5 separate regions of the Homo sapiens genome follow, and regions 1, 3, 4 and 5 are each linked to region 2. The links come from fine-mapping of genetic effects on gene expression. A gene starts in region 2. Each other region holds a variant in brackets. All regions are shown on one strand. Distances are between the middles of the regions.

The links. PIP is the estimated chance that this variant, and not a neighbour inherited with it, causes the effect.
Region 1: its variant is fine-mapped to the expression of HAAO in lung (GTEx, PIP 0.98).
Region 3: its variant is fine-mapped to the expression of HAAO in lung (TOPMed, PIP above 0.99).
Region 4: its variant is fine-mapped to the expression of HAAO in cerebellum (GTEx, PIP 0.96).
Region 5: its variant is fine-mapped to the expression of HAAO in whole blood (TOPMed, PIP above 0.99).

What each region holds. Positions count from the first base shown.
Region 1 is chr2:43,138,424-43,144,995 of GRCh38, reverse strand. No RefSeq gene overlaps it. Among named protein-coding and RNA genes, the nearest start is that of LINC02580, 39 kb to the right of the region's middle. RefSeq lists enhancers at 3,859-4,429, 4,738-4,807, 4,430-5,001. The variant C/A (reference allele first, on the strand shown) is at 3,590.
Region 2 is chr2:42,788,781-42,794,756 of GRCh38, reverse strand. It overlaps HAAO (3-hydroxyanthranilate 3,4-dioxygenase), which reads left to right and starts at 2,174. Exons shown (of 10, transcript NM_012205.3): 1 at 2,174-2,300. The coding sequence starts at 2,221. RefSeq lists silencers at 1,438-1,527, 1,608-1,707, 1,888-2,327.
Region 3 is chr2:42,760,381-42,766,952 of GRCh38, reverse strand. OXER1 (oxoeicosanoid receptor 1) reads left to right here and starts at 2,818. Exons shown (of 1, transcript NM_148962.5): 1 at 2,818-4,454. The coding sequence starts at 2,891. The coding sequence ends at 4,045. The variant A/C (reference allele first, on the strand shown) is at 3,757.
Region 4 is chr2:42,727,129-42,733,700 of GRCh38, reverse strand. The region is part of intron 16 of MTA3 (metastasis associated 1 family member 3); the gene reads right to left. Among named protein-coding and RNA genes, the nearest start is that of OXER1, 34 kb to the left of the region's middle. The variant A/G (reference allele first, on the strand shown) is at 3,302.
Region 5 is chr2:42,709,549-42,716,120 of GRCh38, reverse strand. All of the region lies in intron 14 of MTA3 (metastasis associated 1 family member 3), which reads right to left. It also overlaps the pseudogene RNU6-137P. Among named protein-coding and RNA genes, the nearest start is that of OXER1, 51 kb to the left of the region's middle. The variant C/T (reference allele first, on the strand shown) is at 4,004.

The DNA.
Region 1 (6,572 bases), 350 kb before region 2:
CATTGCACTCCAGCCTGGGCAATAGAGTGAGACTCTGCCTCAAAAAAAAAAAAAGCTAGACTGAGTCTTTCATGGCCTTTTCTTTTTCGCTTTAATTTTTGTAATTTTGGTCTTTCTTCTTTGTGACTACAAACATCATACATGCTCATAAAACTTCAAACACTTCCAAAATAGGTAATGTACCAAGGGAAAACCAACCCTGAGGCTCACTGCTAACTCACTGCTAACATTTTTTTGGGTAACTTAATTCTGACATAATTTCAAATTTACCAAAAAGTTGCAACAATACTACAAAGACTCTAGTATAACTTTTTTGCAGATATACTAATTGTTTACATTTTACCCCTTTTACTTTATTTTTCTTTATATATGTTTATGTGTGTGAATGTGGATGTGTGTATGTGTAATTTTTTCCTGAAATTTCCCAATTAAGAATAAGTTGCAGACATCATGCCCTTTTACCTCTAAATACTTCAGGGTGTATTTCCTAAGAACAAGGATGCTCTTTTACAGTGCAAGACTTACGTAACTCCTGCATGGTAGACACGGGAAACTCAGCATTGATCCAATACTATTCTCTAATCCACAGCCCATATTCAAGTTCAGCTGTGTCATGATCTTTTCACAGGTTTCCAGCAAAAGTCCTGAAAAGTCCTGGAAATTCAGGGCAATATAATGAGTTTTCTTAAAGCCAATATGTATTTAGCTTAAAGGATTATGCTCTATTCTAAAACCTGCTCTCCTCTCTTTTTATTTTTTTGGTGTTTAAGATGTCGCTTGTCTCTTTTTTGATGAAATGATGGTGCCAGGAGAAAGTGATTTGTTAGCCTAGGCTCATGTCTGCAGTCCCAGCACTTTGGGAGGCTGAGGTAGGAGGATCACTTGAGGCCAGAAGTTCGAGGCTAGCCTGGGCAACAAAAAAATAAATAAATAAATTAGCCAGGCATGGTGTCGTGCACCTGTAGTCCCGGCTACTTGGGAGGCTGAGGTGGGAGGATTGCTTAAGCCTTAAGAGGCGGAGGTTGCAGTAAGCTGAGATTGCACCACTGCACTCCAGCCTGGGTGACGGAGCGAGATCTTGTCTCAAAAAAGAAAAAAAAATGGTTTATTATTTCTCTGATATTCTTACTTGACAAAATAAAAACTGGGTGGTTGAATGTTAGTCCACGGACTTCTTTTGTAGAGATGCCCCTATATGGCCCCTCCAGCTCCCGTGGTCTCTAATTCTGGGACCCCTCACCTGAGGAAGGTTTCCTGCGCCCTGTTGAGAGCACAGCCACTCCTGAGGCTGGGGTGGGGGCTGGGATAGGCAGACACAGGCCCTGCCCCAGGAGCAAATGGTTTCTTACCCAGCAGAGGGGACCTTTATATGTTTTTTTGTTTTGTTTTGTTTTGTTTTTTTGAGACGGAGTCTCATTCTTTGGCCCAGGCTGGAGTGCAGTGGCATGATCTTGGCCCACTGCAACTTCCATCTCCTGGGTTCAAGCGATTCTCCTGCCTCAGCCTCCCGAGTAGCTGGGACTATAGGCACGCACCACCATACCCAGCTATTTTTTGCATTTTTAGTAGAGACAGGGTTTCACCATGTTGGCCAGGCCGATCTTGAAAGCCTGACCTCAGGTGATACTCTTGCCTCGGCCTCCCAAAGTGCTGGGATTACAGGTGTAAGCCACTGCGCCTGGCCCACCTTTATGTTTTCCAGACTCTCTGGCCTCTGTCTGGAACCTTCCTGACCTTGTGAGTCTCCCCAAGAGGCAGACTCTAGGCACCAGGCCTCACTTTCCCAGCCTCCCTTGCAGTTGCTGCAGGCTTGTGACCTGGCTCAGCCAATCAGACACACACATTCAGCAACCCTGACTCAGGCAGAAGACACAAAGAAGCAGAGATGGAGTGCATCTGCCCCAAGTGGAGGCAGCAGCAGCAGCAGGAGGGAGGTGTCGGGGCAGTGGGGCCGCAGGGCCAGTCCTCAGGTTGGTTACTCAGTTGTCCTCCCTGGTCTGTCCTCAAGGCGTGATTTGGGCTGGGGTTCTGGCTGCCGTCCAGCCCTCCCTGGTTGCTGTGAGCCTGGCTCTCTAGCCAGCCCTAGAAGTCCGTGAGTTAGTTCTCTGTTGCTTGCAACCAAGAACCCTGACAAGTAAGTACAAAGAAGTCAGTATTCATGGGGATGGCAAGGAAGGGGGGCCTGGAGTGTGGACACATCTGGGCTTGATAAGCAGTGATTCTGAGGCATGGGCAGCCATGGAGGAATCTTGTTGCCTTGTCTGAAATGTGGATGGGACACCCTGTCTAGGTGCTAGGTGGGGAAGCCCAGACAAGGAGTGCTGTGGGTAAGGGGTGGGAGGGATCTAAGAGGGGAGAGCCTAAAGCTGGGGACTGAGGATTGAACTGGGAGGAGAGAGATGGACTCAGGAAGAAGAGGAGGGTGGCATTGCAGAAGGAGATAGCCAGATTGGGTCACATGGTTCCACATGCTTAAAATATTTTTTCACCTTTTTCTTTTCTCTTTTTTTTATTTTTTATTTTTATTTTTGAGAGGGAGTCTTGCTCTGTCACCAGGCTAGAGTGCAGTGGCACAATCTCAGCTCACTGCAACCTCTGCCTCCCAGGTTCAAATGATTCTCCTGTCTCAGCCTTCTGAGTAGCTGGGATTACAAGCATGCACCACCACACCCAGCTAATTTTTTTTGTATTTTCAGTACAGATGGGGTTTCATCATGTTGGCCAGGCTGGTCTTGAACTCCTGTCCTCAGGTGATCCGCCCACCTTGGCCTCCCAAAGTGCTGGGATTACAGGTGTGAGCCATCGCGCCCGGCCTTTTTCACCCTTTTCTATATGCCAGGCAATGTATTGGTTAATAAAACAGTCCAGGGATGGGTATTATCCTCATTTTACCTACAAAGAAATTGTGTTACAGGAGGATTAAACAACCTGAATAAGATCAGAAAACCAGAAAGGGACAGGGTCAGAATTCAGACCTAAGTCTGCCTAACTCTGACACTGATGCTCTTAACAACCTCAACAGGTGCTCAGATGAGGAAGCAAAGTCTCTGCCTCAATCCCTGAGTTTTTATATAGTCGGCCCTCAGTGTCTGTGGGTTCCTCATCTGTGTATTCAACCAACTGCTATCAAAAACATTTGCGGGCCGGGTGCGGTGGCTCATGCTTGTAATCCCAGCACTTTGGGAAGCTGAGGCGGGCAGATTGCTTGAGGCCAGGAGTTCAAGACCAGCCTGGTCAATATGGTGAAACCTCGTCTCTACTAAAAATACTAAAATTATCTGAGCATGATGATGCACGCCTGTATTTCCAGCTACTTGGGAGGCTGAGGCAGGAGAATCACTTGAACCCAGGAGGCAGAGGTTGCAGTGAGCTGACATTGCGCCACTGTACTCCAGCCTGGACAACAGAGTGAGACTGTCAAAAAAAAAAAAAAAAAAAAAAAATTGAAAAAATATGAGGAGGCTGAGGCAGGCAGATCGCTTGAGCCCAGGAGTTCAAGATCAGCCTGGGCAACATGGTGAAACCCCATCTCTACTAAAAATACAAAAATAAATTAGCTGGGTGTGGTGGCGCACACCTGTAGTTCAAG[C/A]TACTTGGGAGGCTGAGATGGAAGGATTACTTGAGTCAGGGAGGCAGAGGCTGCAGTAAGCCAAGATTACACCACTGCACTCCACCCTGGGAGACAGGAGACCCTGTCTCAAAAAAAAGTTTTTGAAAAAAAGTTGTGTCTGTACTGAATACACAGACTTTTTTCTTGTCATTATTCCCTGAACAATATAGTGTGTACATTTATGTACTGTAACAACTATGTACATACCATTTACATTATAATTAGGTATTTAAAGTAATCTAAAGATGATTTAAAATACAGAGGAAAGGCTGGGTGTGGTGGCTCACACCTGTAACCCCAGCAATTTGGGATGCTGAGGCGGGTGGATCACCTGAGGTCAGGAGTTCGAGACCAGCCTGGCCAACATGGTGAAATCCCATCACTACTAAAAATACACAAATTAGCCAGGTGTGGTGGCGGGCGCCTGTAGTCCCAGCTACTCAGGAGGCTGAGGCAGGAGAATGGTGTGAAGCTGGGAGGCGGAGCTTGCAGTGAGCCGAGATAGCGCCACTGAACTCCAGCCTGGGCCACACAGCGAGACTCCATCTCAAAAAGGAATTTTATCACTGTGAGATAACACACTTTTCTTCTTGTCTAAGCCAATTGAATAGGAGTTCTGTTTCTTGTCGCTAAAATATCCTTACTAATTTGGTATGCTAATAGCTGCAGCAGGAACAACAGCCATCAGTTAAAAGGGGAAAACCTGACTCCTTGACCAAGGGGGACCCTGAGAATTCCCTTCGCCGCTGGTTCAGTGGGGAAGAGGGAGAGAGTGTGCAGAAGCACAGGCGGCCCGAGGCCCTTGCACTCTGAATCTTGTGGCAGGCAGAGAGCTCCCATCGGAGGAGGCGCCGCTGCTGGCCAGCCAGATTTCCAACTCCCATTTCCTGTAGGGTCAGCAGAGGTGGAGGATGGGGTAGGCAGAGGAAAGCAGCTTTAGTTTCCGAATCAGGATGGAAAACAGATGTCCCAGTACCCCGCTGGGCCCAGATTCACCCTGGACAGAGGCTGGGCCTGTTCTCAGCCCTGACCCGTCCACCAACCTCCTGTCCGCCACATCAAGTCCAGATGTGGCTTCTTCCAAGTTCTAATAATAATTTTGATTTGTTGCAGCGAAGCAACCTTCACCCCCTAGCTCAACCCTAAACTTACCAACTCACCATGGAGTAGAGAAGGAGTAACACTATGAAAGCTTTGTAAGGAAACCTGGGTGGGGTAGAGAGGAGTGTGAACTTGAGATTCAGACCAATGTGGGTTCAACCACAGCCTGGTCTTTTACTAGCTTTGTGATCTCAACCATTACATCAGTCATCAGCTTCTGTGTAAGAAGCCACCACAAAACCTAGTGGCTCAAAATAACAACTGTTTATTGCTCACGATTCTAAAATTTGGGCAGGGATTGACAGGACAGCTCACTTTTTCTCTACATAGTGTTGCAGGGAATTTTGCGTGTGTGTGTGTGTGTTTTGAGACAGGGTCTCACTTTGTCACACAGGCTGGAGTGCAGTGGTGTGATCATAACTCATGGCAGCCTCAAACTCTCGGGCTCAAGGGATCCTCCTGCCTCAGTCTGCCAAGTAGCTAGGACTACGAGTGCACATAACCATGCCTGGCTAATTTTTAAATGTTCTGTAGAGTCAGGGTCTTGCTATGCTGCCCAAGCTGGTCTCGAGCCCCTGGGCTTCCTCCCTCTTCACCCTCTCAAAGTGCTGGGACTCCAGGCACAAGACATGGCGCCCTGCCCATGGTGTTGTGTTTTGTAAGTTAAGACAATGGTGCATGTGCATGAGCAGAGGAAGTCCATAAAATGCATGTCCACCCTGTTCCTGGTCTCTCATCTCTGTACAGATCATTCCTTTTCTTTTCATCTGTCCTTACTCATCAGTAAACCAAAGGAAGAGAGTGTTGGTAGAATATATGCATAGCAAGAAGAGAAATTAAAAGGTGTTAGTTTTGGCCAGGCACGGTGGCTTATGCCTGTAATCCCAGCACTTTGGGAGGCCGAGGCAGGTGGATCACCTGAGGTCAGGAGTTAGAGACCAGTCTGGCCAACATGGTGAGACCCCGTCTCTACTAAAAAAAAAAAAAAAAAAAACATTAGTAAAGTGTGGTGGCACACACCTGTAATCCCAGCTACTCAGGAGGCTGAGGCAGGAGAATTGCTTGAAGGTGGAGGTTGCAGTGAGCCGAGATCGCGCCACTGCACTGCAGCCTGGGTAACAAGAATGAAACTCTGTCTAAAAAATAAAAAATTTAAAAAAAAAAGTTGTTAGTTTTGTGTGGTGTTCCCACTCTTCTGGTAGGAATGAAATATATATGCATGTATGACCTATGAAATATGAATTGCATAATTCTGATGATTGTACATATGAGCTAAATGCTCTTTTTGCATTTAAAACTGGCTTTGCACCATATAAAGTTGAACAGCAAAATTCATAGTAACATTTTCAAATTTTAGCTTTTTTATTAGGGTAGCATTAAATAGCAAGTTAAAAACACCATGGTGAGTTAAGGGAGAGAGACTATCAAAAGAGAAAGCTTTATATTTTAGTGCCTCTAACAATGTTTATCTTGCTTTTTGAATAAGGGGCTCCACATTTTCATTTTGCTTTGAATTCCAAAAATTGTATAAGCCTAGGCATAGGCCTCTTAAAGCCTGTGCCAGAACCGACACAGCATCACTTTTGCCACATTCTATTGGTCAGAGCAAGTCACAAGGGCAGCCTAGAGCCAAGGAAGAGGTGGGGGTATGCAGGTGTGTGTGTGTGTGTGTGTGTGTGTATGTGTGTGTGTGTGGTGCGGAACTGGCTCCACCTTTTGAAGGGAAGAACAGCATTCTAATACAGAGAGGAGAGGAATTGTCAGTGACCATCTTCGCAGACAATCTACAACCACCATAGGTCATCCCCTTTCTGATCTCATCTTCTTATCTGTAAAATGGGAATGATTCCCCAGGGTTGAT
Region 2 (5,976 bases):
TTGAAGGGTCAGATAGTTATTACCAGCCAGGTTCAGCAAAGCCTAGAAGGATCTGCTGGTCTCAGTGACCTGGGCAGGCAAACACCACCCAGCGGAGGCCAGGGGAAGACACCAGCAAGCAGGCCAGATCCTTTGAGCTTGGATCGTGGGGTAGATTCTATTTGCTTCTAATCCTTTAGTGCAGATGAGCTCCTGTGTGCAGAGGAGAGAGGTGGCTCCTAGAAGCGGGTAAATTCCAGAAACTACAAGGGGCCCAACAGTCAGTATCCAGAAGGATTCCAGATGGTTCCAACTCAACAATGCCAGAATACTCACAACATAGCAACTGTCCGTTTTCTGAACATTGGAGTCCAGTGGTGCCTGAGCCAGGAGGCTTGCCAATTCAGTAGACCAGACGTGGTATTTGCTCTACACAGCACAAATCAGAGGGCATATTTGATAGTGATAACATAGCAGTCATTTAGCTTGTGTAGAGGGTTACTCGGGATATTTCAGACCCCCAAAATTCTACTTGTGGCCTTAATTATTCACATTATTTGATCACATCAGTTAAAATACAGAGTACCTATCATTCTTTCCTTTGCACTATGGTAACGGAACATCTGTTGGGCTGAAATCAATTTTTTCTCCTTTTTGTGTGAATTCATTGATGCCTTCATCCACCCACTCACCCATCCCTCCATTTAACTAACACTCAAAGCAAACTTAACACATCTCAGATCCTCAGTGCTTCATGTGTCATTGTTTACGTCTCCTCTGATTACTTGTAGATGAGAAAAATAAAGAAGGTGGTGTGAGTTACTTGGGTGCAAAACGATATTCTAGTTTTGCACTAGAAGTGCTCAGCTAAAACTGTGCTAGATAAATAACTAAAAAAAAGGAGAGAGAAAAATGAAAAAAAAAAAAAGAGCGTCAGAGAGGAAACGGGAGGGTCTCAGTGGGGAATTCGGCTTCCTGTCGTCTGGGTTTTGATTTTGAGTTGTACTAGAGGAGTCTTTATGTCTGGAATGCTGAGAAAACCAGCCCAGGCCAGGCGGGCTGTGAGGGCAGGATTTAGAGGCGTTTAGTTTCTTAAACTCTATAGTCTGGATTCCGGTGTCAGGGGCCTGAGCCATTTTCCTCCTCCCCTACCCGTCAGCTCCCACTCCCTCCAAACTTCCTAAGAAAGTTCTGAGTCCTGCAGAAAGACAGGCTTCTCCATCTTCCACACCCGCGCAGATTTCTCTTTCCTCACACATGCACGCCCAGGCCCAGCGCCCCAGCCCCTCACCCCCAGGATAACTGTTAGAGTCTCTCACACGGGGCTGTCATCATTAACACCCCGAGATTCCCGAGGGCTAGGACACTGAGGCCGGTGTCCACATCTGCCAAATTCCTCCCATAGCTGCGTGCGAACTGAGTATGTTCCTAAGACGCCTAAGGAGTTCAGCACGGGGCTCGGGGTCCACTGCGACACTGCGCGGACAGCGGCCGCTCGGCTGGGCCTCAGGTGGGGAGGGCTCGCGGTCCTGCCCTGAGCCCGGGCTCCGCAGCTCGGCGCCTGCACCGCTCCCCTCGCCGAGCCCGCGGCGGAGTCTGCCGGCCGCACGCAGCAGGTCTGGGGCTCACCTTGAATCGGGACCTGCGGGGACCGCCGTGCGGCTTCCCGCTGGGTGAGCGCCGCAGCCCTGAGTGGCGGGGCAGTCATTCCCCTTTTCCAGATGGGAAAGCCAAATCTTGAGCCCAGCGCCAGCACCGTGTTCTCAGGTGCTGGGACTTCCAACCCGCGATCTCCTCACTGTAGTATTTCTGGGAACCTTCCCTGGGATTCCCCTCGGGGCGTAGAGGGAAGGAACGTCTGGGGACAAGCGTCCAGGAAGGGTCTGGATTCTTTGTCCTCCGCCGGGAGCAGGCCCCACCGCAGGCGCCAGTGTGTGGGGCGCCCCGGAGACGGTGGCGGGGACCGAGCCCCTGCCCCGCGGAGAAGCAGAGGGCGCGGGACGCCGTTCCCCAGCGCTGCCGCCGCCGCGCTCGCCAGGGCCTGGAGTGGCGCGGAGGGCGGCGGGCTCAGACCAAAGTCCACCAGGGGGCAAAGTCCGCGGGCCCCAAGCCCCCACCACGGGGTCGCGGGGGTTTGCTCCGCCTCGTGAGCTTGGGATTCTGGTTAAAAAGGCGGCTGGGCGGAGCTGCGGGCCTCCGACGGCGGGAGGACAGCGCTGCGAGGAGGCGCCCGGGACAGTCATGGAGCGCCGCCTGGGAGTGAGGGCCTGGGTGAAGGAGAACCGGGGCTCCTTCCAGCCCCCGGTCTGCAACAAGCTCATGTGAGTCCAGCACCCCCATGGCCGCCCCCTGCCCTCGCCTCCTCCCCCTCCTCCATCTGCGCCCTCACCTTCCAGCTCCGAGTTCCTGGACCCAGAAGCTTGCAGAAGGACCGCTTTAATCTCTTGGTTCTTGGGGGAAGATGGAGACAGGCTGTTCCGGTTCCACCACATCGGTCTGTTCCTCTTTCTTGTGACTGTGGCCTTGACTTCTGAAGAAGGCTGAGCTGGTTCTCAGGCTGTAGGAGATGACATGACAGGGTGCACCTCTCCTTCCAGGGCTGAGAAACAATTCTCCAACCCCAAGTGACACTGTGCATTTTGGGAAAACTCAAAAGTGTGGGGAGGGTGGTTTTCAAGGCAGAAATGCACTAGAATGTAGGCCTGGGGGCAGCCAAATCATACACCCCAACCCTGTCCCAGAAGCCACAGGCAAAGGGGGAGGCAGAGAATCCGCTCCTTTGGGAAGATCTTGATGTCTTGCTTTTTTCAGGGCCCCTCTATGCAGGTGTGCACGAACACACACACACACACACCACACCAGACCCTCCCTAGGCCACCTCTGCCAGTAGCCTCTGCCTGCAGCACCCAACAGGGTTGGCCATCCAGCTGCCATCTTTCTCAGGCAGACCTCTCAGGCCCTCCCCTGTGGTATGGTCACCTCCCTCATCCCCCCAGTTCCATGGCGGGGCCCCACATGCCAGCTAGATCAAGGTTTACATTCCCCATTTTTGCTGTGTCCACAGGACATGGTCAGTAGGGTGGCACCTCAAGGCAAACAGCAGGCCCAGGACTATGCCAAGTGTTTTTACATCATCTCATCTCATTCTCACAGTAGCACCGTGAGGGGGGATTTTCATAAGTAACTTTTCTAGTGTCACGGAGCGCCTGTGCGATAGGCTCCAGACTCAACCCACGGAGCAGTTCGACTCCAGAGTCCACGCACACTCTTGGTTACCATGCAATACCACATGGCCAACAGTCAATATCTCCCCAAAGATCTCTTCTATCACTGTTGTTGCCCACCCCCAATTAAAGATGTAGCATCATCTTTGCCTCCTTCCAACACTTCATCCCCATCTGCAGTCGCTCCTTCTCAGTCCTCCCTTCGCTCCCCCTGAGGTCTCGCGTCCATCTGCCCGGGCCTCTCCCTAGCATTTGGTGGTTTGCTGGCATCATTGGTATTCTTGCTTCTGCTGTACCACGCCCACCTCCACCTTCGTCTTCACAAGGCAGTCTCCTTGTGTGTGTGTCTGTGTCCAAATTTCCCTCTTTTAAAAGAACACCAGACATATTGGATCAGGGGCTCACCCTACTCCAGGATGACCTCATCCTAACCTAACTACATCTCAAGGACCCTATTCCAAATAAGGTCACATTCTGCAGTACTGGGCGTTAGGACTTCAACATATAAATTTTACAGGAGGGGTTACTATTCAGCAAGGTGAGAAGCTGCTGAAGCAAGCAAGGTGAGAAGCTGCTGAAGAGTTCTGGGCAGAGGAGGGGCAGGTCTGGTTTATGCATTCTGACTGATGGGTTGAAAGAATTCTTGAGTGGAGTTGTTTAAGAATTGTCTGTATGTACCTAAATTACATCTCAGTGAAGTTGATTTTAAAAAACAACTTTCAAGCCGGGCGCAGTGGCTCATGCCTGTAATCCCAGCACTTTGGGAGGCTGAGGTGGGTGGATCATTTGGGGTCAGGAGTTCAAGACCAGACTGGCCAACATGGTGAAACCCCGTCTCTGCTAAAAATACAAAAATTACCTGGGCGTGGTGGCACGCGCCTGTAGTCCCAGCTACTCAGGAGGCCGAGGCAGGAGAATTGCTTGAACCCGGGAGGTGGAGGCTGCACTGAGCCGAAGTTGTGCCACTGCATTCCAGCCTGGGTGGCAAGCAAGACTCTATCTGAAAAAAAAAAAAAAAAAACAAACTTTCCAGGTTCCCCAGCACCCCTTAGGCCAAGACCAGACTCCATGGCTGGTCCACCCTCCTGGACCAGCCTTCTCAATCGTTCCCCAAGCTCACCCCCAGTGCTTCTAATCTCAGAGCCTCTGCACCCAGCTCTCCTGTGCACACTCTTCCCCAGTCAAGTTCCTTGCGGCTTCCCTCCCCTCCTTGAAGCTCTATGCAGCTTTAAGTTCTTTAAGCATGGACTGTTCATGACAGCCTTCTCCTGCCCTGCAACCTCATCCACCTTTCCAAACATCAGGTCCACACGTGTGTTTCCGGTTTATTGGGCCCAGCCTCCCAAAAGGGAAGGAAAAGGAAAGAGACTGGCTCTTCCGTCTTGCCTCCATGCCTCCCAGCTGGGCTGGAAAGCAGCCCACAGGACAGGACACTCAGAAAGGACCTGCCAGTCTAGTTTGGGGGCTCAGACCTCCCCCATAGCCCCTCCCCTGCCATCCACACCATCGTCATCCATGCAGGCAGCCTCTAGGCTGCTGTGCCCTGTGTGTACAAATGGTCCCAGACCCAGCGCCTCCCCTTCCCAGAGGAAAGCCCTTGCCCCTGCCCTCTGTGGCAGGGCCACCTGAGAACACCCTGAAGCCCTACACAGACACATTCTGCTGCTTATTCACCCCAGTGTCTGCACCCTGAAAGGGGACCCTGCTGTGGGGATGGGGCAGGCTGTTCTCAGGAGGTGCTGAGGTATTTTTTGCATAAAAAGGTAACACCACACCAACAGCAGAAAGACTGAGGAGTTTGGGAACCCTTTTGTTCCAAACAGCTGACTAGATGCCCCACAGACCCAACGCCAGCGTGGGAGTCAAGGAGCCTGAGACCTGGCTCAGGTTCAGTCATTCCCTGGCTTTGTGACCCTCTCTTGGCTGGCTAAATCGGCTGTAAAATGAGAGGGTTGTATTGAGTTTATTTATTTATTTATTTATTTAAGACAGAGTCTCCCCCTGTTACCCAGGCTGGAGTGCAGTAGCGCAATCTCAGCTCACTGCAACCTCACCTCTCAGGTTCAAGCGATTCTCGTGCTTCAGCCTCCCAGGTAGCTGGGATTACAGGTGCCCACCACCAGGCCTGGCTAATTTTTGTATTTTTAGTAGAGACAGGGTTTCACCATGTTGGCCAGGCTAGTGGCCTCAAGCAATACATCCGCCTCTGCCTCTCAAAGTGCTGGGATTACAGGCATGAGCCACCACGCCCGGCCGGGTTTATTTATTTTATCAAATACTTAAATAGTGCTTACTATATGCTAGGCACCATTCTGAGAGCTTCCAAATATTAATTCATGTATTCTGTTTAAACTCTGTGAGGTAAGAACTGTTCCTCTATTTTACAGATAAGGTTAGTAACATGCCCCAGGGCCTGTGCTTATAAACACATGCCACACTGACTTGACACCGCCTGAGGCCCCTGCTAGATGTCACGGTCTCCTGCATCCACTGAGCCATGCCTCCAGCCAGGGGAGAGTGCAGGGTCCTATAGTCAGACAGCATGGGTGAGTGGCAGGTCAAGGTCGTTTTGCCCCTACACTGCCCCATCCTGGGAAGGGGTCTTCAATTTGCTACTCTCCTGTAATTCGAGATCTTGATCCTGTGATCCTGGTTGATGAAGCCATAGATTCACCACCACATCATTTCCCTTGTTGGGTCAGACGATGTGGGGGGACACACAAACAATGACAGACAGACACACAGACACGATCCCAGACACATAGACACTTAG
Region 3 (6,572 bases), 28 kb after region 2:
TGGATGGGCATTCTTCACTGTGTGTGTGACTTGATCCACGCATGCTCCATGCCTGGTCCTGGGAGCACGGCTAATGTCATCTCTCCACTTCCTTCTCTGTTCTCATTTATTCTTTTTACTTTTTTTTTTTTTTTGAAACAGGATCTCACTGTCACCAAGGCTGGAGTGCAGTGGTGTGATCAGAGCTCACTGCAGCCTTGACCCTCCTGGCTCAAGTGATTCTCCCACCTCAGCCTTCTGAGTAGCTGGGACTACAGGCATGCACCACCACACCCTGTTAATTTTTTTTTTCTTTTTTGTAGAGATGGGGATTTCACCATGTTGCCCAGTCTGTCTTTTTACATAACTTTAAAACACTAGCATCTGTTGAGTTTTTTTCCAATAACAGAAGTCATCTGTGCTAACTATAGAAAACCCAGAAATACACAAAATCCCCCACCCAGAGCTAACCACTGTTAATACCTAAAGACTATGATCAGCCTGGAGAGGGGCATGAAGTTGTACCAGGAGCTCAGCAGTGTTGGTGGGGGTGTCTGGCCTTGTGTCCCCTTCCCTCCCCTGTCATGCACAGGTGCCCTGTTCAAAGACTCCAGAGGGACCCCTGAGCCTGCTATGGGTGTCTAGGGATGCTGGAGGCCTCAGAGGCACCAGTGGGAAGAGACAAGAATGTGGAACCTGCAGCGGGCGCAGCTCAGTTTCCTGGGACTTCCGTGAGAAGTCAATGAGGGCATGCACATGAGAGTGACAGATCTGGACAGAACAGGTCCCTGCGTGGACTCAAAGCTTCCTCTAGAAAAGAACACTTGACCCCTGTCTCCCTCATCCCCAGCCCAGTGGCTCACTGCCTTCCTACACTCCACTGGGAGCAGAGAAAGACCTGCCTTTGCTGAAAAGGCTACTGGCCCTAAGAGACATCGGGACCTTCAACCTCCTCGTCACCCCTAAGGGCTTTCCTCTCCTGCAAGCAAAGAAAAAACACCATCAGGCTCCTTCAAACACAAATGGTCCAGGATAGGCACAGGCAGAGGCTCCACGCGGCTCGTTCCTGGCCTGTAGCAATGCACTGCTCCGTGCAGGACCTGAGAAGAAGACATAGAATGTTCCAGGGAGGACCCAGGTCAGAATACCGATGGCCGTGAAGAGAAGAGTTTACTCTCATATGCAGGGCAAGCTTAATCCAGAGAGAAAGTCATGAAAATTAGATCTGTTTTTGTGAACACTCGCTCTGTCCCAAGGAATCCCCTAGAAGTTTGTTTTTTTTTTTTTTTTTTTTTTTGAGACGGAGTCTCACTCTGTTGCCCAGGCTGGAGTGCAGTGGCGCGATCTCAGCTCACTGCAAGCTCCGCCTCCCAGGTTCACGCCATTCTCCTGCCTCAGCCTCCCGAGTAGCTGGGACTACAGGCACCTGCCACCACGCCCGGCTACTTTTTTTGTATTTTTAGTAGAGACGGGGTTTCACCGTGTTAGCCAGGATGGTCTCGATCTCCTGACCTCGTGATCTGCCCGCCTCGGCCTCCCAAAGTGCTGGGATTACAGGCTTAAGCCACTGTGCCTGGCCTATAAGTTTTTACATAAATTATCTCATTTTATCCTCACAACTCTCCAAGAAGGTGGTAGTGCCTGATTTTACAGATCAGGCTCAGAGAGGTTTGGAAATAGGGCAGCTCTGTTTCCAACCCAGGCCTGTCTGCATATGGAGCTTAGGCTGGGCCTCACCACCCTGCTTCTCCCAGGGATGTTTGCCCTCAGCCTTGACCAAATGGGAGCCCAGGGCAGCCAAGAGAGGCCAGGGGCCACTGTGCCTGGGACACAGAGGCCAGGCCACACATGGCAGACTGCTGACCCCAGCCAGTTGGCAGTGATGGGGTCAGGCCCTGGAGCCTGGAACCAGCACCTCCCTTGGCCCTGCTGTCCCGGGTTATCAGGAGCCTGAAGCCCTCATCTCCACCCACAGGACCAGCCCATGGGCTCATGAGAATACCTCACCATGGGACAGCTGGACTTGTACCTTGTCTGGAGCTAGCCCCAGCCTCCCACTCCCTATTCCGCAGTGAATGCTAATGGGGGCAAGGAGTGGAGTGGACAAGGAGCCATGGGGAGACACAGACAGGGAAAAATCAGGATTGTTCTATTTGCGGGAGAAGCCCCCAGCTCCCCGTGCCATGGCAGTAGAAATTTGGCAGGGGCGTCCCCGTCCATGGGGCCTACTTCACCGTGTACCCGGACTTGGGACCATCACAGACTTCGGAACCATCAGGAACCTGGGAGCAACTGAAAGCTGAACTACAGTGGGCTTTCAGACACACAGCAGGCTGGCGGAGCACAAATAGGACTGGTTCCCTCCAGGCCACCAGCAGGGCGGTGGAGGTCTTCACTGACTCCCTGCCTACCTCTCAGGACAATGTCCTTTTGGCTCCACAGTCCCTGAAGCCAGAGCTGGTGGGGGCAGGGAGGCAGCCACCAGCCTCTATATGTAGTGGAGGAGGGGGTGTCCAGGGAGGGCTGCATGATCCTGAGAGCCCCCACCTCACCCGGCTGGACTATCCTCCCACTTCAGGGTTTCTCTGGGCTTCCATCTTGCCCCTGCTGAGCCCTGCTTCCTCCTCTACCAGCAGCACAACCCCCAGGCTGGGCTCAGAGACCTCATGTGGTGGGATCACTCAGTACCCCGAGGCGGAGGGAAGGAGGGAGGGCTGCAGGGTTCCCCTTGGCCTGCAAACAGGAACACAGGGTGTTTCTCAGTGGCTGCGAGAATGCTGATGAAAACCCCAGGATGTTGTGTCACCGTGGTGGCCAGCTGATAGTGCCAATCATCCCACTTTGCCCTGAGCACTCCTGCAGGGGTAGAAGACTCCAGAACCTTCTCTCAGGCCCATGGCCCAAGCAGCCCATGGAACTTCATAACCTGAGCTCTCCATCTCCCTCTCTCTCCTCCTCTGTTCTCCCTCCCTCCTTCTCTCCCTCACCCTCCTCTGCTCCCTCTGCCTTTACCACTGTGGGGGGGTCCTCTGGAGGGCCCTGCCACCCCACCTCTTCCTCGCTGGTGTCTGCCTTCCTGGCACCAATCCTGGCCCTGGAGTTTGTCCTGGGCCTGGTGGGGAACAGTTTGGCCCTCTTCATCTTCTGCATCCACACGCGGCCCTGGACCTCCAACACGGTGTTCCTGGTCAGCCTGGTGGCCGCTGACTTCCTCCTGATCAGCAACCTGCCCCTCCGCGTGGACTACTACCTCCTCCATGAGACCTGGCGCTTTGGGGCTGCTGCCTGCAAAGTCAACCTCTTCATGCTGTCCACCAACCGCACGGCCAGCGTTGTCTTCCTCACAGCCATCGCACTCAACCGCTACCTGAAGGTGGTGCAGCCCCACCACGTGCTGAGCCGTGCTTCCGTGGGGGCAGCTGCCCGGGTGGCCGGGGGACTCTGGGTGGGCATCCTGCTCCTCAACGGGCACCTGCTCCTGAGCACCTTCTCCGGCCCCTCCTGCCTCAGCTACAGGGTGGGCACGAAGCCCTCGGCCTCGCTCCGCTGGCACCAGGCACTGTACCTGCTGGAGTTCTTCCTGCCACTGGCGCTCATCCTCTTTGCTATTGTGAGCATTGGGCTCACCATCCGGAACCGTGGTCTGGGCGGGCAGGCAGGCCCGCAGAGGGCCATGCGTGTGCTGGCCATGGTGGTGGCCGTCTACACCATCTGCTTCTTGCCCAGCATCATCTTTGGCATGGCTTCCATGGTGGCTTTCTGGCTGTCCGCCTGCCG[A/C]TCCCTGGACCTCTGCACACAGCTCTTCCATGGCTCCCTGGCCTTCACCTACCTCAACAGTGTCCTGGACCCCGTGCTCTACTGCTTCTCTAGCCCCAACTTCCTCCACCAGAGCCGGGCCTTGCTGGGCCTCACGCGGGGCCGGCAGGGCCCAGTGAGCGACGAGAGCTCCTACCAACCCTCCAGGCAGTGGCGCTACCGGGAGGCCTCTAGGAAGGCGGAGGCCATAGGGAAGCTGAAAGTGCAGGGCGAGGTCTCTCTGGAAAAGGAAGGCTCCTCCCAGGGCTGAGGGCCAGCTGCAGGGCTGCAGCGCTGTGGGGGTAAGGGCTGCCGCGCTCTGGCCTGGAGGGACAAGGCCAGCACACGGTGCCTCAACCAACTGGACAAGGGATGGCGGCAGACCAGGGGCCAGGCCAAAGCACTGGCAGGACTCAGGTGGGTGGCAGGGAGAGAAACCCACCTAGGCCTCTCAGTGTGTCCAGGATGGCATTCCCAGAATGCAGGGGAGAGCAGGATGCCGGGTGGAGGAGACAGGCAAGGTGCCGTTGGCACACCAGCTCAGACAGGGGCCTGCGCAGCTGCAGGGGACAGACGCCAATCACTGTCACAGCAGAGTCACCTTAGAAATTGGACAGCTGCATGTTCTGTGCTCTCCAGTTTGTCCCTTCCAATATTAATAAACTTCCCTTTTAAATATATTTATTTGCAAGACCAAATATCTGTCTTTAATTCTAACCTGGGACTGTCAGTAGGCGTCAAAGTGAGCGCCCCAAGGTGAAGGGAAACTTGGGAGAGAGTGGGGAAGCCATCCCACAGCCCCATCCCAGGGGGCACTGTCCTTCCCAGAACTTCTGGGAAGCCCCGGCATGTCCTGAAAGGCAGAACTGCTTTCTTGGGTGAGGCCTCAGGCAGGCCACCAGGGCTCCAGGCCCTCGGGTACAGAGTTTGATGCTGGGGACCTAACATCCCTCCCCAGTTCCCTCAATCCACTTAGCCCAGCCCTCTCATATCATGGACAGGACGCACCCCAGCTACTAAAGTCGTCAGGAATAGAAGTGAAAGCCCAGAAGTGTCACACACAGACCAGGAGGGTGGCATCAAGGGTCCATGTGGATGCTGGGGAGGGAGCGAGAGAAAAAGTATCAGGCAGAGGGAGGTGGGCCCGGGAAGGATGAGCGGGTGAGTACCAGACCCCGCCTCCACCGTGTATCTCCAGCCCACTTCCCTGTTCTGAAAATCTACCTGCTGCACTCAGAAACCTACCAAGGTACTGGGGTGCCACCTGGGCCCCCCCCAGGGTTGCTCTTCTGTCTCTCGGCTCCCCATGGGCCCCTCTTGCCCCCTCAACTCCTACTGCTCCCTTTTACTCCCTGGAGCCACGCCTAGGGGGTCCCTGCTTCTCCACGCCCTCTGTCACCACAGGGAAGGGAGTCCAACCCTGGGCGGGGCCACCTCAGCCTGAGTCAGGTCTTTTAGGAAAGGCCTGCACACTCCTGGAGGATGGGGACTGAGCAGCTCCTTCGGGTGGATCCCCACCTGGGGCGCCAACACTTACCGCCAGCTCAACACCAGGCACCTTTCCTCTGGTACCATCTCTGCCCCTGAATGCGCCCACCTGGGCTCAGGGCAGCTCCACGGGCCATTTCCTCAATCTCCTCTTCCCTGGACCCTTCTCCTACCAACTCCTCCCTCAAGTCCTCGCACCTCTCCCAGCACCTGCCCTCACTCCTTCATGACCTGATGGAAGGGAAATGGACAGATACTCCCATGGTTTGCAGGCATGTCTGCAGTCCTGTCTTTTCCCATCAAGGGAGAGAGCAGAGGCTGCCCTTGAGGAGTTCCTGGGTAGATGCTGGTCACAGGGTTCAGGCCCGCACTCCTAACCTGCCCTGGATTCTCCTTGCTCCCCATCTTGACCCTGAGGACTGCTTCCTCACTGACAGTCTGGGTCACACCACCCTTCCCCGCCTTTCCATCATTTGCAAGGCCTTCTCTAAACGGGGTTGGGTGCTCCCTCGCGAAGCAGGCTTCAGGCTGCCGCCACATGGAGGTAGGACTGACTCCCTGGTCCGAACTATGGCCCCAGCCCACTGTACCCTTCTCTGGACTTAGTTCTCCATCTGTGAATAGGAATAGTAATCCTGGCCCTTGCCCAGCTCCAGGGGCTGGGGATGGGAGTAACTATATGCCCAGAGCACTTGGTGAGGAAGGCAGTTATTATGTGGAGCAGGGAAGGGAGAAGGAAGAGGAGTGGGAAGAGAAAGAAAACTGTGTTTAAGTGTAGGGTTTCCTAGAGATGGAGTAGTACCCCGTGGTGGTATAATGGGAGCTGGGGGCAGGCGGAGACCCCATTTCCTACATTTGGGTTCTAAATGGCATTTTGGTCCCGGGGACAGGCTGCACTATCCAGTGTGAATTTTGGGCAGCATCTTCCACCCTTTTTTCTCTTCTTTCTCCTAACATAATCTGCTGCCCCCCTGAGAGAGGATCAGATGGCATGCATTACCTTCCTCCAGGGACTCCTGAGCAGGGGGCAAGCAGGCAGGGCTGGGTGACAGGCCAGCAGTCATTAACTTGCCAGTGCTTACTGGGCACCTGCCGTGGGCCAGACACTGAGCTACAAAGGCAGACAACTGTACTCTCACTTTGAGCTCCCCCCGGCCAAGCCGGGGAGAGACGGACCTGCAAATGGAACCAGCGCAATGCAACCCAGTGCAGGCCAGGGTCTTTTAGGTGGTGATGCACCCTGAGAGCAGAGGCTTGAAGAGCTGACTCTGCCTGGGCTGTCAGGTAAGTCATGCACATAAGCTGGATCT
Region 4 (6,572 bases), 61 kb after region 2:
ACAGTGAGACCCTGTCTCTACAAAACAACAACAATAACAAAAACAAACAAGCAAAAACACAATATGCTCCTGAATGACCAGTGGGTCGATGAAAACATTAAGAAGGAAATTTAAAAATGTATTGAAACAAATGATAAGGGAAATACAACATACCAAAACCTATGGGATATAGCAAAAGCAAACTAAGAGGAAAGTTTATAGCAAAAAGAGCCTTGATATGGTTTGGCTGTGTCGCCACCCAAATCTCAACTTGAATTGTACCTCCCGGAATTCCCACATGTTGTGGTAGGGACCCAGAGGGAGGTAATTGAGTCATGGCGGCCAGTCTTTCCTGTGCTATTCTCATGATAGTGAAAAAGTCTCACAAGATCTGATGAGTTTATCAGGGGTTTCTGCATTTGTTTCTTCATTTTCTCTTGCTGTCACCATGTAAGATGTGCCTTTCACCTCCTGCCATGATTCTGAGGCCTCCCCAGCCATATGGAACTGTAAGTCCAATTAAACCTCTTTTTCTTCCCATTCTCGGGTATGTCTTTATCAGCAGTGTGAAAACAGACTAATACAGTACATTGGTACCAGCAGAGTGGGGTGTTGCTGAAAAGATACCCGAAAATGTGGAAGCGACTTTGTAACTGGATGACAGGCACAGGTTGGAACAGTTTGGAGAGCTCAGAAGAAGTCAGGAAAATGTGGGAAAGTTTGGAACTTCCTACAGACTTGCTGAATGGCTTTGCCCAAAATGCTGATAGTGATATGGACAAAAAGGTCCAGGCTGAGGTGGTCTCAGGTGGGGATGAGGAACTCGGGAACTGGAGCAAAGGTGACTCTTGTTATGTTTCAGCAAAGAGACTAGTGGCATTTTGCCCCTGCCCTAGAGATTTGTGGAACTTTGAACTTGAGAAAGATGATTTAGCATATCTGGCAGAAAAAATTTCTAAGCAGCAAAGCATTCAAGAGGTCACTTGGGTACTGCATTCAGTTTTAAAAGGGAAACAGCATAAAAGTTCAGAATATTTGCAGCCTGACTATGCGATAGAAAAGAAAAACCCATTTTCTGGGGAGAAATTAATGCTGGCTGTAGAAATTTGCATAAGTAGCAAGAAGCCTAATGTTAATCCCCAAGACCATGGGGAAAATGTCTCTAGGCCATGTCAGAGGTCTTCACAGCAGTCCCTTCCATAACAGGCCTGGAGGCTCAGGAAGAAAAAGTGGTTTCATAGGCCAGGCCCAGGGTCCCTGTGCTGTGTGCAGCCTAGGGACTTGGTACCCTGTGTCTCAGCTGCTCCAGCTGTGGCTGAAAGGGGCAAATGTAGAGCTTAGGCCGTGGCTTCAGAGTGTGGAAACCCCAAGCCTTGGCAGCTTCCACATGGTGTTGAGCCTGTGGGTGCACAGAAGTCAAGAATTGAGGTTTGGGGGCCTCCATCTAGATTTCAGAAGATGTATGGAAATGCCTGGATGCCCAGGCAAAAGTTTGCTGCAGGGGCAGGGCCCTCATGGAGAACCTCTGCTAGGGAAGTGTGGAAGTGAAATGTGGGGCCAGAGTCCCCACACAGAGTCCCTACTGGGGCACTGCCTAGTGCAGCCGTGAGAAGAGGGCCACCGTCCTCCACACCCCAGAATGGCAGATCCACCAACAGTTTACACTGTGTACCAGGTCATTTTGTCAGCATGACCTGGATATGAGACCCGGAGTCAAAGGAGATCATTTTGGAGCTTTAAAATTTGACTGCCCAACTGGATTTCAGACTTGAATGGGCTCTATAACCCCTTTGTTTTGGCCAATTTCTCCCATTTGGAACGGCTGTATTTACCCAATACCTGTACCCCCACTGTATCTAGGAAGTAATTAGCTTGCTTTTGATTTTACAGACTCATAGGGAGAAGGGACTTGCCTTGACTCAAATGAGACTGGACTGTGGACTTTTGGGTTAATGCTAAAATGAGTTAAGACTTTGGGGGACTGTTGGGAAGGCATGATTGGTTTTGAAATGTGAGGATATGAGATTTGGAGGGGCCAGGGGTGGAATGATATGGTTTGGCTGTGTCGCCACCCAAATCTCAACTTGAATTGTATCTCCCAGAATTCCCATGTGTTGTGGGAGGGGGAAGTAATTCAATCATGGGGGTCGGTCTTTCCCACGCTATTCTTGTCATAGTGAGTAAGTCTCACGAGATCTGATGGGTTTATTAGAAGTTTCTGCTTTTGCTTCTTCCTCATTTTCTCTTGCTGCCACCATGTAAAAAGTGCCTTTGGCCTCCCACCAGATTCTGAGACTTCCCCAGGCATATGGAACTGTAAGTCCAATTAAACCTCTTTTTCTTCCCAGTCTCAGATATGTCTTTATCAGCAGTGTGAAAACAGACTAATACAAGCCTACATCAAAAAATTAGAAATACTTCATATAACCTAATCAGTGCATATTAAAGAACTAGGAAAGCAAAAGCAAACTAAATCCAAAATAGTAAAAGAAAAGAAATAATAAAGATCGGAGCAGAAATAAGTTGAATCAAAATGAAGGAAGCAATACAAAAGGTCAATGGAACAAAAAGGTGATTTTTTGAAATTATAAACAAAATCAATAAACCTTTAGCCAGACTAAAGAGAAAAAGAGAGAAGACACAAATAAAATCAGAGATGAAAAAGGAGACGTTACAACTGATATCACAGAAATTCAGAGGATCATTAGAGACTATCATAAGCAATTAAATGCCAACAAACTGGAAAAGCTAGAAGAAATGGATACATTCCTAGACACATACAACCTACCAAGATTGAATCATCAAGAAATCCAAAACCTAAACAGACCAATAACAAGTAATGAGATCAAGGCCATAATAAAAAGTCTCCTAGCAAAGAAAAAAAGCCCAGGACCCTATGGCTTCACTGCTGAATTTTATAAAACATTTAAAGAAGAACTAAAACCTATCCTACTGAAACTACTCCAAAAAATAAAGGAGAAAGAAATATTTCCAAATTCATTCTGCAAGGCCAGTATTACTCTGATAGCAAAACCAGAAAAAGACATATCAGAAAAAGCTACAAGTCAATGTCCTGATGAACACTGACGAAAAAACCTCAACAAAATACTAGCAAATTGAATTCAACAATTCATTTAACAAGATTATCTCATGACCAAGTGGGATTTATCCCAGGAATGCAAGCATGCAAGTCAATCACAAATCAATCAGTGTAATATATCACATCAACTGAAAGACAAAAACCATCTGATTATTTTAATTGAGGCTGAAAAGCATTTGATAAAATTCAACATCCCCTCATGATAAAAATCCTTAAAAAACC[A/G]GGAATACAAGGAACACACTTCAACACAATAAAAGCCATATATAACAGATCCATAGCTAGTATCATACTGAACAGGGAAAAGCTGAAAGCCTTTCCTCTAAGATTTAAAACAAGACAAGGATGCCCAGTTTCACCACTGTTATTTAACAGAGTACTGGAAGTTCTAGCTACAGCAATAAAACAAGAAAAAAAAAGTCATCAAATTGGAAAATAAGGAGTCAAATTATCCTTGTTTGCAGATGATATGATCTTATATTTGGAAAAACCTAAAGACTCCACAAGAAAGCTATTAGAACTGACAAACAAATTGAGTAAAGTTGCAGGATACAAAATCAACATACAAAAATCAGTAGTATTTCTATATGACAACACTAAACAATCTGAAAAAGAAGTGAAAGATCTCTACAATGAAAACTATAAACCACTGATGCAAGAAATTGAAGAGGACACCAAAAAATGCAAAGATATCCCATATTCATGGATTGGAAGAATCGATACTGTTAAAATGTCCATACTAACTCAAAGCAATCTATGGATTCAATGCAATGCCTATCAAAATACCAATGATGTTCTTCGCAGAGATAGAAATAATAGTCCTAAAATTTATATGGAATCACAAAAGACCCAGTATAGCCAAAGCTATTCTGAACAAAAGGAACAAAACTGGAAAAATCACTTCATCTGACTTCAAATTATACTACAGAGCTATGGTAAGCAAAACAGCATGGTACTGGCATAAAAACAGACATACAGACCAATGGAACAGAATGGAGAACCCAGAAACAAATCTATACATCTACAGTATAAACTCATTTTAAACTCATTTAAAACAATGGTGCCAAGAACATACATTGGAGAAAATATAGTCTCTTCAATAAATGGCACTGGGAAAACTGGATAGCCATATGCAGAATAATAAAACTAGACCCCTCTTTCTTGCCATATACAAAAATCAAATCAAAATAAATTAAATACTTCAATCTAAGACCTCAAACTCTGGGCTGGGCGCAGTGGCTCACGCCTGTAATCCCAGCACTTTGGGAGACCGAGGCAGGTGGATCACAAGGTCAGGGGATCGAGATCATCCTGGCTAACACGGTGAAACCCCGTCTCTACTAAAAAAAAAATACAAAAAATTAGCCGGGCGTGGTGGTGGGCGCCTGTAGTCCCAGCTACTGGGTAGGCTGAGGCAGGAGAATTGCATGAACCCCCCGGAAGGTAGAGCTTGCAGTGAGCCGAGATTGTGCCACTGCACTCCAGCCTGAGCAACAGAGCATGACTCTGTGAAAAAAAAAAAAAAAAAAAAAAAAAAACTCAAACTGTGAAACTAATAAAAGAAAACACTGGAGAAACTTTCTAGGACATTGTTCTGGGCAAATATTTCTTGAGTAATATCCACAGGCACAGGCAACCAAAGCAAAAATAGACAAATTAGATCATATCAAGTTAAAAAGCTTTTGCACAGCAAAAGAAACAGTCAACAAAGTGAAGAGACAATGCACAGAATGGGAGAAAATATCTGCTATCCATCTGACAAGGGATTAATAGCTAGAATATATACGGAGCTCAAACAACTCAATAGGAAAACAATCTAATAATCTGATTAAAAATGGGCAAAAGGTGTGAAAAGACATTTCTCAAAAGAAGACATACAAATGGCAAACAGGCATATGGAAAGGTGTTCAACACCAATGATCATCAGAGAAATGCAAATCAAAACTACAATGAGGTATCATTTAGCCCCAGTTAAAATAGCTCTTATCCAAAAGGCAGGCAATAAGGAATGCTGGCAAAGATATGGAGAAAAGGGAACCCTCATACACTGTTGGTGGGAACCCTATACACTGTTGGTGGGAATGTAAATTAGTACAACCACTATGAGAACAGTTTGGAGGATCCTCAAAAAACTAAAAATAGAACTACCATATGATCCAGCAATCCTGCTGTTATATACCCAAAAGAAAAGAAATCAGCGTATTGAAGAGATATCTGCACTCCCATGTTTACTGCAGTACTATTCACAGTAGCCAAGATTTGGAAGCAACCTAAGTGTCCATCAACAGACAAGTTGATAAAGAAAATGTGGTACATATACACAATGGAGTACTATTCAGACAAAAAAGAATGAAATCCTGTCATTTGCAACAACATGGATAAAGCTGGAGGACATTATGTTAAGTGAAATAAGCCATGAACAGAAAGACAAACTGCACATTCTCACTTACTTGTACTAAAAATTTAAAAAAATTGAACTCATGGAGATAGAGAGTAGAATGGTGGTTATCAGAAGGTAGGAAGGATAGTGGTAGGAGGTATGATTAATGGGTACAAAAATATAGTTAGATAGAATGAATAAGATCTAGTATTTGATAGCTAACAGGGTGACTACAGCAACAATAATTTATCGTACATGTTAAAATAACTAAAAGAGTAAAATTGCACTGTCTGTGACCAAAGAAAGAATAAATGCTTTAGGTAATGGATAACCCATTTACCCTCATGTGATTATTAAGCATTATATGCCTGTATCAAAACATCTCATGTATCCCATAAATACATACATCTACTATGTATCCACAAAAAATTAAAAATTAAAAAATAAAGCACATGAAAATTTTCAATCGTAAGATCAATTCTGTAAGGCAAATGTCATCTGTATTCTACAGATTTATAGAGGAGAAAACTCATCCAAAAAAAAAACCATGTGATTCACCCAAGGTCACACAAGAAGCAATCAGAGGAGTAAGCAATTAATCCTAACTGATTCCAAACACTCAGATACCCCTTTTTCCCCCCATGGCACAGACAAGTTCCATCTCCCCCTGCTGCCTTCTCTTCAGGGCTTTCTGACATGGAAATGTTTTCCAGTAATGGCTCTTCTATCCCTGCTGGCCTAAGCCCTCACCTACTCACAGCCACTTGGAGTTAACCAAGTAGGGCAAACATAGTAGGTGATACCTGGTTTGCTAGCAGTAAAAATGTCCACAGTGGAGGAGATGGGACTGGAAACCACAATGACAGCATACGGCACACTGCTGGACCGACATCCTAGGGAGAAAGACTGAAGTATAGGGAGACTGGCAAGGCACTGTGCAGATCTCTAATTTTGAACCTTTATTCTTTTTATCATTACTGACTCCTTGCACTGAGTACTGAGGCTTCTTGCGTATGCAGATTTCTTTCTTTCTTTCTTTCTTTTTAAGAGACAGGATCTCACTCTGTAACCCAGGCTAGAGTACAGTGATACAATCATAGCTCACTGCAGTCTCAA
Region 5 (6,572 bases), 79 kb after region 2:
TAATAGTGAAGATACAGGCAGAAATATAATAAACATCTTGTGGAAGAGTAATCTAAATAAACACTAGGAAGCAACCCAAAGCCTGTAAGGATCAAACGCCTGCCAAACCATTGAGTTAACACTACATAATTTCTTGCTAATATTACTGATTCACCTGAAATTCAAGTTATATTTGGGATAAGGACAAGATAAATTTTTCTTTCTTCTCTATTAATAAAGCTGGAATGAGTCATCTTGGTTATTTCCTCAATGTCTTGACAAAGGCAATCACCATATTACTAGTAATAAGATTTGCCTTTTATTCCAGTCTAGATGACCCAAAGGAAAACTGCCAATATGGCAGCAATTGATAGACATTGATGGCTATCATCAACAAATCCATCAAAGAGGTCACCAACACAATACCCAAAGATACTTCATTTTAAACTATATTTGCTTCTAATTTCTCATTAAAAATAGGAGGATTAATTATATGATGTTCTAAGTGACAATTTGCATTACAGAGTACCTCTGAATGGGAGATCAAAGCTTTTTAGAAAGAAGCATATTTCACTAATCCTCATAATATTTTATAGAAAGTTCCAGCTACTCAGGAGGAGGAGGAGGGAGGATCCCTTGAGTTAGAGGCTATAGTGAGCCATGATCACGCTACTGCACTCCAGGCTGGGTGACAGAGCAAGACCCTGTCTCAAAAAAAAAAAAAAAAAAAAAAAAGTAGTTGGTGGCAAGAATTATGTCTCAACTGTGAAAAAATTAGAGTGAAAAGATTCTAGGACTGCCTTAGTCACTCTTTAACATAAGAAAAGTTGTTGCCATTCAGTAGGAAAAATACAGTTGGCCCTGAGGAAATAGCCATAGGTGGGATTGTCTGGCCCACACTTGAGTTGGTTAGAAGGAATGCTGGGCTGCACTCAATGCCAGGCCAACAATGCTGCCACTTGTCAGACAGTCCTTGCTCCCAAATTACTCACCTAACTCCACTTCAACAGGGAGATATGCATTTGAAGTCACAGATAATGAAAGCAATCTGAGAAATCCCCAAAGAACCCAGAAGGAATCAAAACCTGTCCAGAGAGAACATCTATATCTCACTCAAGTCACTTGACTGGTCACAAGGAACATGTCTTTAGTTTCCTAGAGCAGGGGTCCCCAAGCCCCAGGCCTCAGACCAGTACTAGTGGTAGCAAGTTAGGAACTGGGCCGGACAGCAGGTGAGCATTACCGCCTGAGCTCCGCCTCCTGTCAGGTCAGTGGCAGCATTAGATTCTCATAGGAGCGCTAACCCTATTGTGAACCGCTATGCGAGGGATCTAGATTGCCTGCTCCTTATGAGCCTCTAACTAATGCCTGATGATCTGAGGTGGAACAGTTTCATCCCAAAACCATCACGGCCCACACCACCCAGTTCATGAAAAAATTGTCTTCCATGAAACCTGTCCCTGGTACCAAAAAGGTTGGGGACCACTGTCCTAGAGGATGATCTATATTTCCTTGGGGTTAACCTAGAAATACACTATTACTTTTGTTGAAACTCATGGTTATTTTTCTACAGTGTTTTGGAAATACTGGGGGCAGTGAGATGGAAACCCTGCAATATACACACAGAATTCACAAAAACATCCCACATGTGCATTCAAGAACCCTGTCAAGATAAAACTATCAGTAGAGTTTGCTTCTAGAACTGGAAAGGTATTTTTAAAGAAGCCACAAAACTCATGATTTTTTTTTTATAAATTCAACTATTAATATGTCTTTTTTTAAAAAAAAATCTGCTTGGCAAATACACCATAAAGTCAAAGAGAAAACGGGGGAACTATTTGTATCACATATCACAGATTAAGAGATAACTTTGTTAAAATATAAAAAGTTCCCACAAGTCAGTAAGACTGCCAATAGAAAACAGGCCACGGGCAAAAACAGTTGACAGAAAAGGAGATAAATGGTTTTCAAATATAGGCAAAGATTTCTATCTCATTCAAAATGAGAAATGCAAGCTAATATAACTTGTCATCTGTCAATTAGTCACGGGTTTCAAAGATGGGTAACACTGCCAGCAAAGTTCTAGAGAAATAGGAATTGTCTAGATGTTGTGAGTGGGACTGTGAATTGCAGTTTTTCTACGGGCAATAAAACTACACCAAAATTCAAAATGTATGCTCCTTGGCCCCAACTTTAACTTTTAGGGATCTATCTTGTAAGGAACATTCCCATTTTATACATCAGTATGAAATGATATCTGCATAAGGATATTTGTTGCAACATTATTTATGATAGAAAATGACTGAAAATAACTTAAAAGCTTTTAATAGGAAACTAGTTATGGTACAACAAAATAGATTATGCAGCTGACACAAAAAGGAGGCAGTTTTCAATACAGTGGCACGGTATGTTAAGTAAAAAGCAGCAAGGGACAGAGCAATATAGACAGTATGTTAATATCATATAGAAACAAACAATAAGCCTACTTAGACTCTTATAGATGCACAGAATATTTTTTGGATACTTAAGGCAACGATGATAATGGTTATCATTGAATGGGGTAAATCAGGAATGAGGAACGTGATGAGATTTGTAACCACTTTTGTACCTTTAGAAAAATTTTTCAGTATCCATTCAAAACCAAATTTTTATTAAACTCCCTCGGCTTATACCACAAGGCACATACTAAAAAAAAAATTTAAACTCTCTACCAAAAATACCAAAAGAAGCAAACCAACTATTCTCTCATGATTCAAGCTTAAAATTTCAGAAAAGCTTATACTCATTAACTTTAGCTGAGAAATCTCTAGAAAAATCTCATAAAACACATTTTTCATCAAGTGGGGTCTTGAGATACTTCCAAAGCCAAATTAGCTTCTTCAAACAGAAAAATAGCTTCAGGTTCCTCCCAAATAACCTCATACAGGGGAATACTGTGGCCCATTCAAGTCTGGTATGTTATCAGCCCAAACCACTTCACTCTCTCTGCAAGCCACCAAGGTGCCAGGCAAATCATCCGGATTTACTTTTCCAGGCACTTTAGCTTCATCTTTGGAATGTTGCTAGTAAACCTACTTCTATTTAACCTCAGTCTGTGAGGATCCTGAGTCTCAAGTGCTGATAATCCTGTGTGCATCAGGTGTTTGGATGATTCTGTAGATCTTTGGTGAAGTCTCTGAAATAACGTCTGATGACAATAACAGAGGAACGTCATTCTCCCATACATAGCTTTTTTACTAGGGGGAGGGACCTCAGGGGGGAAAAAAGAAAAGACGGCTAACTTTTTTTTTTTAATAAAATATGGAACACTTCACTAATTTGTGTTGTCATCCTTGCTCAGGGCCATGATTATCTTCCCCATATCATTCCAATTTTTAGTATATGTGCTGCTGAAGTGAGCACGATGTCCAAACTTGGTATTTTATAACCTTGCTGTTGGGCCACAAATCTTAAGAAAACAGTACGTTTCTTTATGCAATGAAGAATTTTGGTCTACCAATCCATTTTTAATAAGTACTGTCTACGTGGTAGAACTGGCTCAGGCATTTTACCAATGTTAGTAACTTTTGGCATGGATTTATACATTCACATATAAAGATTATTAAAATAATATTTAGGTATTTGGGGAAATTGGTTTAAAAAATAAATTTTTCATAGTGAGGCCCCATCTCTAAAAAAAATAAATTAACCGGTGTGGTGGGCCACACCCATAGTCCCACCTACTCAGAAGCCAAGAGGATCACTTGGGCCCCAGAGTTCAAGGCTGCACTGAGCTATGATGGTACCACTGCACTCCAGAGCATGGGCAACAGAGCAAGACCGTCTCTTAAAAAAAAAAATTCCTATATATGGATGAAGAGTGGTAAATCTTCCCACCCCTTTCCCTCACCCTCCCAGGTTCCCTTACCTCAGATGTCATTACTCTTTACATATTCTTTGAGATATTTTATGAATCTGCAAAGACCTTTTTTGTTTTTACTATTTGCTTTAATACAGGTTTAAAAAGCTCCCATTTCTTCACTTT[C/T]ATGCAGTGTCATCCCATAAACTGACTATGACACTGGTTGTGATGGTGCTGCCGTGGCCAGAGGCAATTGAAGAGGTCACCTTCTACAGTGCTTGGAAGAGTCTCAAGCTCACAGGGAAGAACTAATAAATTATTCTAAAATGCATTAATTAGAACTCTAGATCCATCAATATTTTGAGAATAACACACTTCAGCCTTATCTGAAAGTACATTCACATTGCATCACAGCGATTCTTAACTTTCTGCAGGGTGGAGGAGGGCCTAACACTGCCTTTGAGAAACTAAGGAAAACTTACTGGAAAACACACACACACACACACACACACACACACACTCTCTCTCTCTCCTATACACTCCCAGTAGATCACAGACATGGTTGCCTATGGACATCAGGTTATTAATACCTAATCTCCCTAACAAGCCAAGATCAAGACATCTGCTGAAGAGGTTGTAACAAGGTAAGTATAAGAACAGAAGAGATGATAGCATAATCAATTAGATGTTAGGAAAAGTTCATTGCTTGTCTGAAAAATAAAAAAGAGTAGACGGCTGCTGAAACACTGTCATTTTAAATCTCAAGGTAAAATTATTTAAGAATCTGATTATGTACAACTCAATGACCAGTGAAGCTAAATACAAAACAAAATAATACATGCTCTCTGAATTTCATCCAGATAGACGACTGCTCTTTTATGATTACTATAATCTATATGCTTATAGAAATAAAATACAGGTAACTTAATTATGATCCCTTTTAGCAGCATGGCCCGTCAATTGAGAAAAAAATTAGAACGAGATAAAAGAAAAATATACTTCATTGAAGAATAATCAAAACAAAGATAATGTGCAAATTAACTGAAAATTAACACACAAGCCCTGGGGAAACAGAGTTTCCTCAGCAGCCAACTGAGTTGCTGATGGTTTCTCTTCTAGTCCTAGGACAAAGATGATACTGGATCCCCACCAATCTTAATGGAAAAGTCTCATTCATTTTCATTCTTAAATGTTTTACTTTTTAATTTTTATTTATTTATTTATTTTTTAATGCGGAGTCTGTGTTGCCCAGGCTGGAGTGCGGTGGCATGATCTCAGCTCACTGCAACCTCTGCCTCCCAGGTTCAAGTGATTCTCTTGCCTCAGCCTTCCAAGCAGCTGGGATTACAGGCGTGTGCCACCATGCCTGGCTAATTTTTGAATTTTTAGTAGAGATGAGGCTTCACCATGTTGGCCAGGCTAGTCTCTAACTCCTGACCTCAGGTGATCTGCCCACTTCGGCCTCCCAAAGTGCTAGGATTACAGGCGTAAGCCACCGTGACTGGTCTTCACCATTTTATTTAAAAAATTACATGAAAATGTGTTTTAAATGAGCTGAACAATTTAGACTATAAATATTTCTAATTCCCAAAATGGGAAAGTGGTAACGTAAGTCCATGAGGTCTCAAATGCTAGCACAAAACCTAAATATAAGCCTAAACTCTCAAATATACATGAATCTAATATAGTAATCCCCCTTCTGTGGGACTCTGACATTGCTACCACTTTCTTTTTTTTTTTTTTTTTTTTTTTTTGAGATGAAGTTTCGCTCATTGCCCAGGCTGGAGCGCAATGGCGCAATCTCAGCTCACTGCAACCTCTGCCTCCCGGTTTAAAGCAATTCTCCTGCCTTGGCCTCCTGAGTAGCTGGGATTACAGGCGCCTGCCACCACGCCTGGCTAATTTTTGTATATTTAGTAGAGACAGTTTCACCATGTTGACCAGGCTGGTCTCGAACTCCTGACCTCAGGTGATCCACCCACCTCGGCCTCCCAAAGTACTGGGATTACAAGCATGAGCCACCGCGCCCAGCCCTCAACTCCCTTTACAAAGCATTTTTCTTCTTATAGAGCTGCTACTTAAGTTTTAAAGCCTTTCAACTATTCTGCTAAAAATTATCTTTAGGAACAAAAAATGTTTTTTTCAGTCATCATTCCTTTTATTGATATCCTCTTTAAATCAAAGGGGAACATTTCATAGTAAGAGATTTCTTAGAATGGCTTTAGGATTTCCTATCTGTTAGGCCAGACAGCAAGTTTTGTCACCCCTTAAGGAACAAAAGCTGCACGGCTCTAACATGCTAGCCTGGAATGTGACTCCAGAGCTAACATATTAATTATACACATATTGTCAGAGACATGGTAATGACAAAACGATCCACAATTCATGGACACATATGATCTCTGTGCTAACAAAAATAAAAATAAAAAAGATAAGCAAGACCAAATGTGTTGAAAATAAGAGTAGTAAGTCATGTAAATGTTATGTGGTGATATATATGATACATGATCATGAAATGGAAACCAAACTGGACAAACAGGCTGCTCAACCATATGTTTAGATGCTAGCTTATGAAAATGCAATGTGTAATTTCAGAAAACTCACCCAAAAATGAGTTTAAAATTTACTTGTAATTTGCTAGACCTTCTAATAAATATAGTATTTGTTATGAATCAAGGGTGAATTTCCATAATGTTGTATGACAATTGTAAAAGGTTCATGAGAAAAACGAGAGGTTTACAAAGACATACAGTCT